3 linked regions of the Homo sapiens genome follow. The protein of the gene in region 3 purifies or fractionates together with the protein of the main gene of each other region. This does not show direct contact. Each region holds a gene or a part of one and is shown on either strand. Other genes may lie near its edges.

The links.
Region 1: the proteins of EIF5B (region 3) and YBX3 fractionate together in Homo sapiens (co-fractionation; one large-scale study listed by BioGRID). This does not show direct contact.
Region 2: the proteins of EIF5B (region 3) and SRRM1 fractionate together in Homo sapiens (co-fractionation; one large-scale study listed by BioGRID). This does not show direct contact.

What each region holds. Positions count from the first base shown.
Region 1 is NC_000012.12:10,706,304-10,709,959, reverse strand, and holds part of YBX3 (Y-box-binding protein 3), read left to right. Parts: coding exon 1-52; intron 53-3,656. UniProt on the Homo sapiens protein: Binds to the GM-CSF promoter. Seems to act as a repressor. Also binds to full-length mRNA and to short RNA sequences containing the consensus site 5'-UCCAUCA-3'. May have a role in translation repression.
Region 2 is NC_000001.11:24,670,386-24,673,781, reverse strand, and holds the end of SRRM1 (serine/arginine repetitive matrix protein 1), read right to left. Parts: intron 2,397-3,396; coding exon 2,187-2,396; intron 1,601-2,186; coding exon 1,496-1,600; 3' UTR 501-1,495; downstream 1-500. UniProt on the Homo sapiens protein: Part of pre- and post-splicing multiprotein mRNP complexes. As a component of the minor spliceosome, involved in the splicing of U12-type introns in pre-mRNAs. Involved in numerous pre-mRNA processing events.
Region 3 is NC_000002.12:99,364,825-99,368,480, forward strand, and holds part of EIF5B (eukaryotic translation initiation factor 5B), read left to right. Parts: intron 1-3,656. UniProt on the Homo sapiens protein: Plays a role in translation initiation.

The sequences.
Region 1 (3,656 bases), on a different chromosome or scaffold from region 3:
ACAGACCTTTGACCGTCGCTCACGGGTCTTACCCCATCCCAACAGAATACAGGTAAAATTGCAACTGAGACTTCTCTTCAGCAATCCTCACCCTTCCGTCCTTCTCTGCCTCCTCTTCCTCCTCCTCCTCCAACATCAGCTGCCAGAAACCTTGCTTATGGCTTCCTGATGCTACAAAAGCTGAGGCAAGGCCTTCAGTCTGTTTTTTCAAAGCAGTCATTCCGGTAACACTTCTAAAAGCAAAACCACGTGATCCATGCCTATAATAGGGAACCCTTATGGCCAAAGTTTCTAGTTGATAGAAGAACAAAAGAATTAAGGTAACAAGACAGGTGGAATGTGTAAGAGCTTGGACTCTGAAGTCAGGCTGGATTTGAATCCTGTTTCTGCTACTTATTTGTGAGGTTTTGAGAAAACCAAGTTTTAGATTAAGTTCATCCATTAAGTGGGGGCATTAAATGCCTGCACCATAGGGTTATGATGATTAAATATAAAGGATTTAGCAAAAGAGATGCCTGCAGCATAAATAACATTTTTAAAGTATTGGTTTTAAATGAGACAGTGCTGATTTTTAAAGGCAACCTACCAGAATGGAGGTTGTTGATTATTGATTCTCCTTTTTCACTGCAGAATATTAGTACAGCTGTTTTGAGTTTGTTTTGTGCTTAATAAACCTTACATCAATTTTGCAGTTCCTAGGGAACTTGGAAAACTAGGGATAGATCATCATTTTTGTTATCAGTAGCCACAACTTTTTTCTCCTCAGTGTCGTTGGGGTTTCTTTTTTTTCCCCTCACCGCTAGATGTTTTGACCGAACATTATGTTCAGTCTGTTCTTTGCTACCCTTCTCCTGTCCCATCATGCATGACTGTGTTCTTTCTTGTTTTTTTCCTTCTACTCTTCAACAGCTGCCCCTGACAAATGTGCTAAAAATAACAAGTAGACTTACATATATGGAGAGATTGGGTACATGAGACATAGTAGCTTTAGGGCAGCACTCTGGGCTTCTAGGAAACAAGGACAGGAAAAGTCAGTGAGATTGTAATATGCACTTATTTTTAGCGTCTTAATAGTGCTTTCCTGAAATACTCCTCCTTAGTGTTTGGCTTATACAACATATATCACGTTTGCTGAAAGCATGATGATTCTTTTTCATATCTTTTGAAATAAAATGTATTTCACCTTAGGAATTGAAGTTTCAGAGCAAAGTCGTTCCTTAGTGCCACGTAAAACATCATATGCAGAAGCTGATCGAAAGCTGCTTTTGAACATGTACGCTTATTCCTGTAACTTAACTGCATTTAGTTAATTGACTGAATGGCTGACTTTCCTACCTATTCCATGTCAGAAGTAAAAGTTGTCTTGATCCTTTAAACCATATTTTTTAATAATCTTTATAATATCTACTAGCTCTCTGACTAAGTAGTCTGGTTAAGCCAGTCAAGAGCATCAAAAGAAAATTCCTAAAGCTCTCATCCATATAACTAAGCTACTTCAAGGTTGTCAGTGTGTTCTCTTAAAAATATATAGATGGATCTCTAGGATAGTAAAAATTATTGAGATCAAATATAAAAGTCTTCGCCAACGTTTTCTACTATTACAACGCTATGAAATTTATTGGGCATAATAGAAAAAAAAAATAGGAATATATAGGCCAGTGGTATTTGCCTTATGCACTAAGGACATAATATAGCATGATTTATTAGTGACTGAATAACTTCCATTTTTAAAGAAAATAGTTCTATAGATTTGAAAATTAAGTAGAATCATTCACTGAGCTACTATGTGCTTGTTGTCTTTGAGAAAATAATTATATGATGGAGGGAAGGGAGCAACATTGTGGCATCTACCAGGTGACAGATATTTGGAATCGGTTCTTACTTTAGTTGTCTCTAGAGCCTGAGGGAAGCAGTGGTTTCCATATTTTTTGTTGTTGTCACAAATGAAGGAATTTGATTACTTTTAAAAATCAGCAACTTTTATTTTACATGGACAAGAAGTGGTAGAACTTAATTTTAATTCATTTTGTTCTTGTCATCCAGTCTTTCTGGCAGACTCTCATCCTTTATACACGTTAATTGCTGTTTCTGTCAGTCTTTTTTTGTGACTCAACAGTTTCTGAGGAAGAAATGGCCGAGCTTACTTAGGAAACTAAAGAGAGGCTCATGTGATGGGGATGATGTGAATGAAGGGGGAGAGGGTATGAGGTGAGATCTCAGGGGAGGTCAGACATGCTGGTAGACCACTGTAAAGACTTGACCTACTGTAAATGTGATGAGAAGCCAGTAAAGGGATCTCAACAGAAAAGAAACATTGAAGAGATTATTGGACTGTTTTGTTGGGACTAGACCACAGGAGGTAAGAGTATAAAAGCAGGGAGAACAGCTGCTATAATCTTTTCAGTAGAGAAATGAACATGGGTTGTATTAGAGAAGCTGGCAGTGGAAGGTCTGATTAAATGGTTAGATTTGGAAAATGTTTTAAGCATATAGAGGTGTTGGCATTTCATGATGGATTGAGTGAAGAGTATGAGGAATGGTAATATATTGTATGAGGAGTAAATAATACCTCTGCAGTTTTGATTTAAACAAATACGGGAATACTGAAGAAAGATTGGGTTTGGAGGGAAAGGTGAAAATTCTTTGGAGGTCTTTTTCTCATATTAAATTCACGTACAAGTGGAGGTGTTAAGTAGGCAGAAGAAATAAAGCAGAGGGAAGAGGTAGAAAGTGGCTGGAGGATGGAAGGTGTAGTCTTAGATACAGTGGTTGACAACATTTTTGGGAGTTCATTAAGTTGTATTTGAGAAGAGACCTAAATGGAGCAAGGGATCAAGTCCATCAGGTCCCAGGAAAGGCGTGAATGGGAGTCTGAAGGGGAGAAATGGAACTGCAAATAATTATTTGGAATTATTTATTTATTTATTTATTTATTTATTTTTTGAGATGGAGTCTCACTCTGTCACCCAGGCTGGAGTGCAGTGACACGATCTCGGCTCACTGCAAGCTCCATCTCCTGGGTTCATGCCATTCTCCTGCCTCAGCCTCCTGAGTAGCTGGGACTACAGGCACCCGCCACCACGCCTGGCTAATTTTTTGTATTTTTAGTAGAAACGAGGTTTCACTGTGTTAGCCAGGATGGTCTCAATCTCCTGACTTTGTGATCCACCTGCCTTGGCCTCCCAAAGTGCTGGGATTACAGGCGTGAGCCACCGCTCCTGGCTGATTTGGAGTTATAAAACAGGATGTTTAAAGCCGTAGGGGCAGGATGATATTAACTATAAAGTGAGTGTAGGTGGAAATAGGGTCCTAGGATCAAGTTCTGGGACACACCAACGATTAAAGATTAGGAAGATGAGGATTGTCTAGCAAAGGACAGTGAGAAGGAGCAGCCAAGGAGAATGTATTTCAAGAAAGAAATGTGTTAAATGCTTGTTGATAAGTAGAGATTAAGCTGAGAATTGATTATTAGATTTGGTAACTTGGAGGTCAGTGGTTTGGTGAAGACAAAAGTTTAAATAGAATGAACTTAAGAAACAGCAAAGGGCGGGAAGAGGAGACATATTCCCCATTGAGGTTTCTGTAGTGGTGGTCATGGTGTTTGGTTTTTCTTTAGTATGTATGTCTGTAAAGAAATGGGGTAGTAGCTGGAAGAA
Region 2 (3,396 bases), on a different chromosome or scaffold from region 3:
TCAGCTTAGGTTTCTGGTGAACTTCTTTCATACGAATGTTGCTGTTTTACCTCACACTATGTTAACAACTCCAAGTTTCCCCAAATTTTCGTTCCACTTAGTTTTAAATGCAAAACAGACTTGGTTGTAGATAGCCAAATATTACGTGCGCACGCACACACACACGCACATACACACACACAACCCCCCCCCCCCCACCCCGCCCCTGACAGAGGGTGTTCCAGTCATTCCTTAGCCTTTGTTCACTTCCTAACATGCCAGCAGGCTCCTTCTGCCTCAGGGAAGACACAGACACTGTTTGTCTGACTGCAATCCTGTTCTCTTTGCCTGGTGGACTTCTCCCACCAGTATTCTAAATGTTCCAATCACATGCTGATTCCCTTTATAGCACTCACCACAGTAATTATTGAAATAAAGATGGTAAAACCTTAATTTCATCACCTTTTCTTTCCCCTGCCCAACTCCCAACACACCAAAAGGTTTACATAAGCACTACTAAGTAAGAGTGGCAAAATTTTTAAATTTAGAAATTTATTCTGTTTAATCCACAAGCTTTATATAGCTTTAGTTTAAAAAAAATCAAAACAAAAAAAAAATCAAAACAAAAACAGTGAAACCAAGACACTATTCCAAAGTCTGGGCCCTTCCAGCCTTCCAAATACAAGAGGCTCTGAAAGTTGTATATACCAATTGGAAGAACAAGACAAAAATATGAACAGAGCCATGACATTTCATTAAACAAATTGTATGTAACTGAAGGATCCTTTCTGGGACTAGCTCATTGCCTTTACAAAAGAAAAAAAACAAAACAAAAAAAACAAAACCAGAATAACAGAATGAGAGTCCAGTGTTCCAAATCAACTTGTTACACATCAATATAAACCCACAGTGTCCTGGCAAACAACATGCTTTCATTTTCTGTCTCATCCTAGAGCTCGAATCCTGATTCATTTCAGCAGAGACTCCACAGGCAACAGGAAAGATTGTGGCATTAAAATATTCATTTATACTTTTGTGGTAGTTCAAAACAGTGGTCTTATTTCTGGGCAAGCTTACAGACCATACAAGGTCAGAAGCATAACTTAAATGGGAGCTAAGACTCAAATGAAAAAAATAAGAAGAAGAAAGAAAAACAAAAAGAAAATCAAAACCAAAAAAACAAACAAAAAAACCCCTCTGGGAATAGCTAGGGCATTTAAAGGAACCATAAAAATGCCAACAGTATTTAAACCCCCTTTTTTAAAAAGGGAATTTTTTTTTGGCTTAAAATATTTCACTCAATGAATTATGTCAGCTGTCAATGAAAGAATGTCACTAATACACTGTGGACACCTTTTGCAATGTAAATCCATGCCCCCTTTTTTTACATGTTGAACTTCAACCTAGCAATTATTACAACAAATGTTATAGTCTAAAGCTCAAACACATTTTAGCAATTTTGAAATTGAACTGCGTACAAACCAAATAAAATTTACATCATAACAAACATTTCCCCCTAAGACTGTGGGGACACTTGGGCCTTCCTCATTGATCTCAGGGCCTTTTCACGCAGGTGCTTTTCTAAATCATCAAGGTTATCTTCAGCTTCACTTTCAGTCTCCTAAAAAAAACAGAATTTACACGGTTAAGTCTTGAGACCCTGGTGGGAAATGCCGAGTAAAGAGCAGAATCAAAGTGTGGGAGGGGAACATCACACACCGGGGACTGTTGTGGGGTAGGGGGAGCAGGGAGGGATATACCTAATGCTAAACGACGAGTTAATGGGTGCAGCACACCAACATGGCACATGTATACATATGTAACAAACCTGCACATTGTGCACATGTACCCTAAAACTTAAAGTATAATAATAATAAAATTAAAAAACAAACAAAAAAAAAAACCAACCTCACAAATCTTTTGAGTACTGAACTGTATGCAAATATAATGGCCACTGTGGATAGTTAATATTTTAAATAAATAAGTCACCTTTATAAAAAAAAAAAGTGTGGGGATCGCTGCACAACTGATATACTAAAACCCAGGGAACCACAAACTTTAAATGGGTGAACTGTATGGTACGTGACTTTTATCTCAGAGTAACTGGCTAATTAGTAGAAAAAACAATTTTGCTACTTCTCAAAACAAAATGACTTTGCTATCTGTACGTAAACTGCAAGACAGCCATATACAGAGTTCATAAATACCTTCTTCGGCTCTGGCGCTGCCACTGGCTCTTCCTGTGCTAATGTGGTTGTGGCAGCTGCAATGGCTGCAGGGGTCACAGCAGCTGCAGCAGCTGCAGCCACAGCCTTTTCCTTCTTGTGTTTTTTGTGCTTCTTGTGCTTCTTATCCTTTTTGTGTTTCTTGTCCTTCTTTTTCTTCTTTTTCTTTCCACCTCCTTCCTGATCTGAATTCTAGGAAGAAAAAAAAACAACACCCAGCATTTATAATCAATCTGATTAATATTCTGTCCAACTGAACATTTTATTTCCTCAAATCCCCAATGGACAAATCTCAAGATTTCCGAAAGGCTTTGGAGGGTGTGAGTGGGGAAGGCCCAAGGCCAATTATCACCAAGAAAAGTATTCAAAAGTCAGGGGCTATCTCCAGGATGAGCTCAATTCCAGCTCCTGAACTATTTGACCTTAGACAAATTGTTGAACTCTTTCTGAGACCTTTTTACCTAAAATAAGTGTAATAATCCCTACCTGATAAAGCTCTTGTGAAAATTAAATGAGAATATCTGTAAATCACCCATAATACTTGCCTAACATGTAGCAGACTTTTAATAAATGGTACCAGCCATTAGTCTAAACACATGCCTGTATGAATGCCATGTCTCTAGCTACCATCTGAGCTCTCCTATCTTTAGAGTGGGGATGACTGGTTCTTCCTCATGACACACATACCAAATTTATGCAAAAAGCAGGCTCCTATAATTTAATCCATAATATTTCAATTTCACACTTCTAAGCAATTACTTAAAATTCCTCACAAGTTAGCTTGCACAACTATTCAGTCAACCCAATTAAATATGGACATCTGAGGCCACAGCAGGAGGATCACTGGAGGCTAGGAGTTCAAGATCAGCCTGGTCAACACAGCAAGACCCTGTCTCTACAAAAAGTTAAAAACAAAAAACCAGCCAGGTGTAGCAGCATGTGCCTATAATCCCAGCTACTTGGGAGGCTGAGGCGAAGGGATCACCTGCGTCCAGGAAGGCTGCTGTGAGCTATGATCATCCCACTGCACTCAGCGTGGGTGACAGCATGAGACCCTGTCTCAAAAACAAACAAAAAACAGATGGACACCTAACCACTGATTTTATGCAATACAGAAACCTGCCCAAGATCAGATGTATAACTCACAAATGGGAAAAAAAGTTTAAACACCAATATTTTAATGCCCCAATGA
Region 3 (3,656 bases):
CCAGACAGCATATTAGTTTGCCCACATGACCACGGTGAAAAAGTATTCATGACCATTTTTTTTTAACCCTTTCCTTACTTTCTGATGCAACAAGATATCCCAGGTTCATCTTGCATGGGCTGAGACCTGGAATCGGTTGTTTATCCAAAGAGCTTTTGTTCCTTTTAGAGGGTAATAGTGTTTAGAGATCACAACTGGGCATATAATTTATTACTTTTTTGAAAGGTAAGGTGATTTAAAATAGTGTCTTTGCTCCAATGAGAAGAATATATTGGGACCTCTCTTAAATTTCCTGCTCCTATATTCCCTAGATTTTTATATTACAGTCATTTTGGTGTTTATGCTATAATTACAGTAATAGCTACCATTTATTGTGTGCTTAGTGTGTAACTGATGCTACAATGTCTTTGACATTGTCTATTTTTCCCTCATAAAAAAATCTTATAGCTATTTTTACTTCCATCATATAGATGAAGAAATGGTGGTTCAGAGTGTAAACAGCTTACCCAAGGCCACAGAGCTGAAATTTAAGCTGGTCTGTGCAACTTTTTCTTACGCATATGTTCAGCTAGGAACATTAGATGTGAAGAAACCCAGTACTTAGATTTTAGAAAGTTTTATTCTTAATGGAGAATATAGCTTTTGTAAAATTTTAAATGAAATTAGGTACAAACTTGAATATAGTTAGCATTCATACATCAGATTTCATTGGTGACTATTGGAGAGGCTAAAAGCACCCATGAAGAAATTCAGATGGGACCAAGCAGGGAGTAATTTGCCAGTCTCAAAAATGCTGTTTTAAGGAGCAGTTAGACTTGTAGTTATGGAAATTACAGTGTAGAATGGTGGACTTTTAGCATCAGTCTTTAGCATTAGGCTTGTAAGAGATGCTCTCTCAAGTGGCATCCCTGACGCTGGTCTCTTACTCTTCATAGTGTTGTCCAGTGTTTACCATCTTATTAGTTCCCTATTGTCTACTAATAAGAATCCAAATTCCTTAGCTTGACATTCAAGGTTCCCCCCCACCCACAGCCCACTCATGTGAGTCATCTCATTAAAAGATCCTACAGTGTTGTTTCATCGTATGTTTGAAAGACAGCTGCTTACCACATTTATTACCTAGAATATTGTAAAACTTATTCATTGAGCTAAAAATGTACTCTCAGAGAGTGTAGGCATCTGCAGGTGTCTTCATATAATTGCTCTGAAATGTGCAGCAGGTTAACTTTTCAGTCATCCTTTAGCCTGTGACTACTAAGCATATACACACACACACATATATGAGTACTTTATCAATAATTTGTAATAAACTCATTTCAGGCAAAGAGCTTCTTCAAGAACTTGATTGTTATGTCTCAGTTTGCAAAGTGAATGGAATGTCTAAACACATACAAGTCTTGGTGTTGATTCCAAGTACAGCAGCTTATTTGAGAGTCTGAGACTAGAGCAGTAGTCAGTTGATTAAGTCTAGGGTGTTATTGGGACCACCCTTCAGGTAATCCAGCCTACAGTTTCCCCTCAGGCCCATGCTTTTCATCTTAGTAGGTGTAGGCTGCTAGGCAAGGAAAACTTAAAGTGATGATCTCTGCATTCTCAGCTGGCTTTATCCTCTTTCTTTGGTTTGTTTAATGTATTCGTCTTACCAGTCATAGCTATGGTTTTACCATTCTAGCCATTCTTCAGTACATGCACAACACACATCCATATACATTCCTACGTTAGAGATAACATTTTTAGTCATTTTCCTTTATTAGTGACTTCATTCAAAATCCCATGGTATACAATTTCTGTTGTCTTTATTCTAAGGCTTCTGCCCATAGTGAGAGACTGAGTCAGTAATCCAGTAATCTGTAGATTCAGTTCAATCCCAGTCAAAATCACAGCATGGTATTTTGTAGCTATCTGTCAACTAGTTCTAAAATGGATATGAAGAGACCAGAGAGTTAGAATGGCCAAAATATGTTTGAAAAAGGAGAACAAACTTAGAATACCTGATTTCAAGACTTAGTATAAAGCTATAGGAATTAATACAGTGTGATATTGCCAGAAAGATAGACAAACAGATAAATAGTCTATACATGGTTAGTATATAGGTGAAAGGTAATTCAGTGGATAAAATACAGTATTTGTAGCAAGTGGTACTAGAACAATTGGACATCTGTATGCAGAAAAACCCAAAACCAGTTTTAATTCCCACTGTATAAAAATTGACCCAAATGGGTATCATATGTAAATGTAAAATATACAATAATACTTTCAGAGGAAAACATAGGAGGATATCTTGTGTTAGGCAGAGTGCTTAGATAGGACTCTAAACCATAAAAGGAAAAAAGATACATTTTGAGAAAGACCAGTTCAGAACTTTTCTCTGCAAAAGACACTGTCAAGAGAATTCCAAGACAGTACCTCCAAGTCAGATATCTGAGAAAGAATTAACATCCAAAATATATAAAGACCTCTCAAAATTCAACTATAAGAAAACCAATAAGTTCATTTAAAAATGGGCAAAAGGTATCAACAGACACTTTCACCAGAAAGCTATACGCATCTGAAAAGAATGTTCTAAAAAAAGAGAAACCTTTACCACATTCAGAGCAGTTGAAACTCTTTTTTTTTTTTTCTCTCTTTTTTTGAGACAGAGTTTCGCTATTGTCCAGACTGGATTGCAGTGGCGCAATCTCAGCCCACTGCAACCTCTGCCTCCCAGGTTCAAGTGATTCTCCTGCCTCAGCCTCCTGAGTAGCTGGGATTATAGGCACCCACCACCACAATATATATATATTTTATATAATACAATTTTTTGTATTTTTAGTAGAGATGGGGTTTCACCATGTTGGCCAGGATGGTCCTGGACTCCTGACCTCAGGTGATCCACCCACCTCGGCTTCCCAAAGTGCTGGGATTACAGGCGTGAGCCATTGCGCCTGGCCAAAACTCTTCTGCATTAGTGGTGGGAATGCAAGATAGTATAGCCACTTTGGAAAACAACTGGCAGTGTCTTTATAAAAATTAAGGTCATATTTACCTTATGTTTCATCATTCACACTACAAAATATTTGCCCAAGAGAAATGTTCACACAGAAACCTGTCTGAAAATGTTCATACCTGCTTTATTCATAATTGCAAAAAACCAGAAACAACTCAAATGTCCTTCAGCTGTTGAATGGATAAGCAAACTGATATATCCATACAATGGAATGCTGCCCAACAATGAAAGTAAACGAAGTATTGACATGTGCAGCAGAGTGAGTGACTCTCAAATCCATTATGATGATAGAGGCCAGACCGTAAGATTCCATTTATGTGACATTTTAGAAAAAGCAAATCTTTTGGTTGGAGAACAGATCAGTGGTTACCAGAGGCTAAGAAGGTAAGGAGGGTTTGATTACATGGAGCAGCACAGGATGATGGAGTGATGGAGCTTTTCTGCATCTTCATTGTGATGGTGATACACGTATCAAAACTCTCACTGTATGTGAAACGAGGATTTTTACTGTATGTAAATTTTAAAATACCTTATATGTAAAAGATACAAGTTTTTCCATGAATATCCTTTCATATTTTAGGGTATGTGTCTCTGTGGTGAATGAAATGCTATCCTTTAAATAGTACTTCTCAGGTGACATGCAAGTAGTATAAGCCTGAAGTTTTTCATT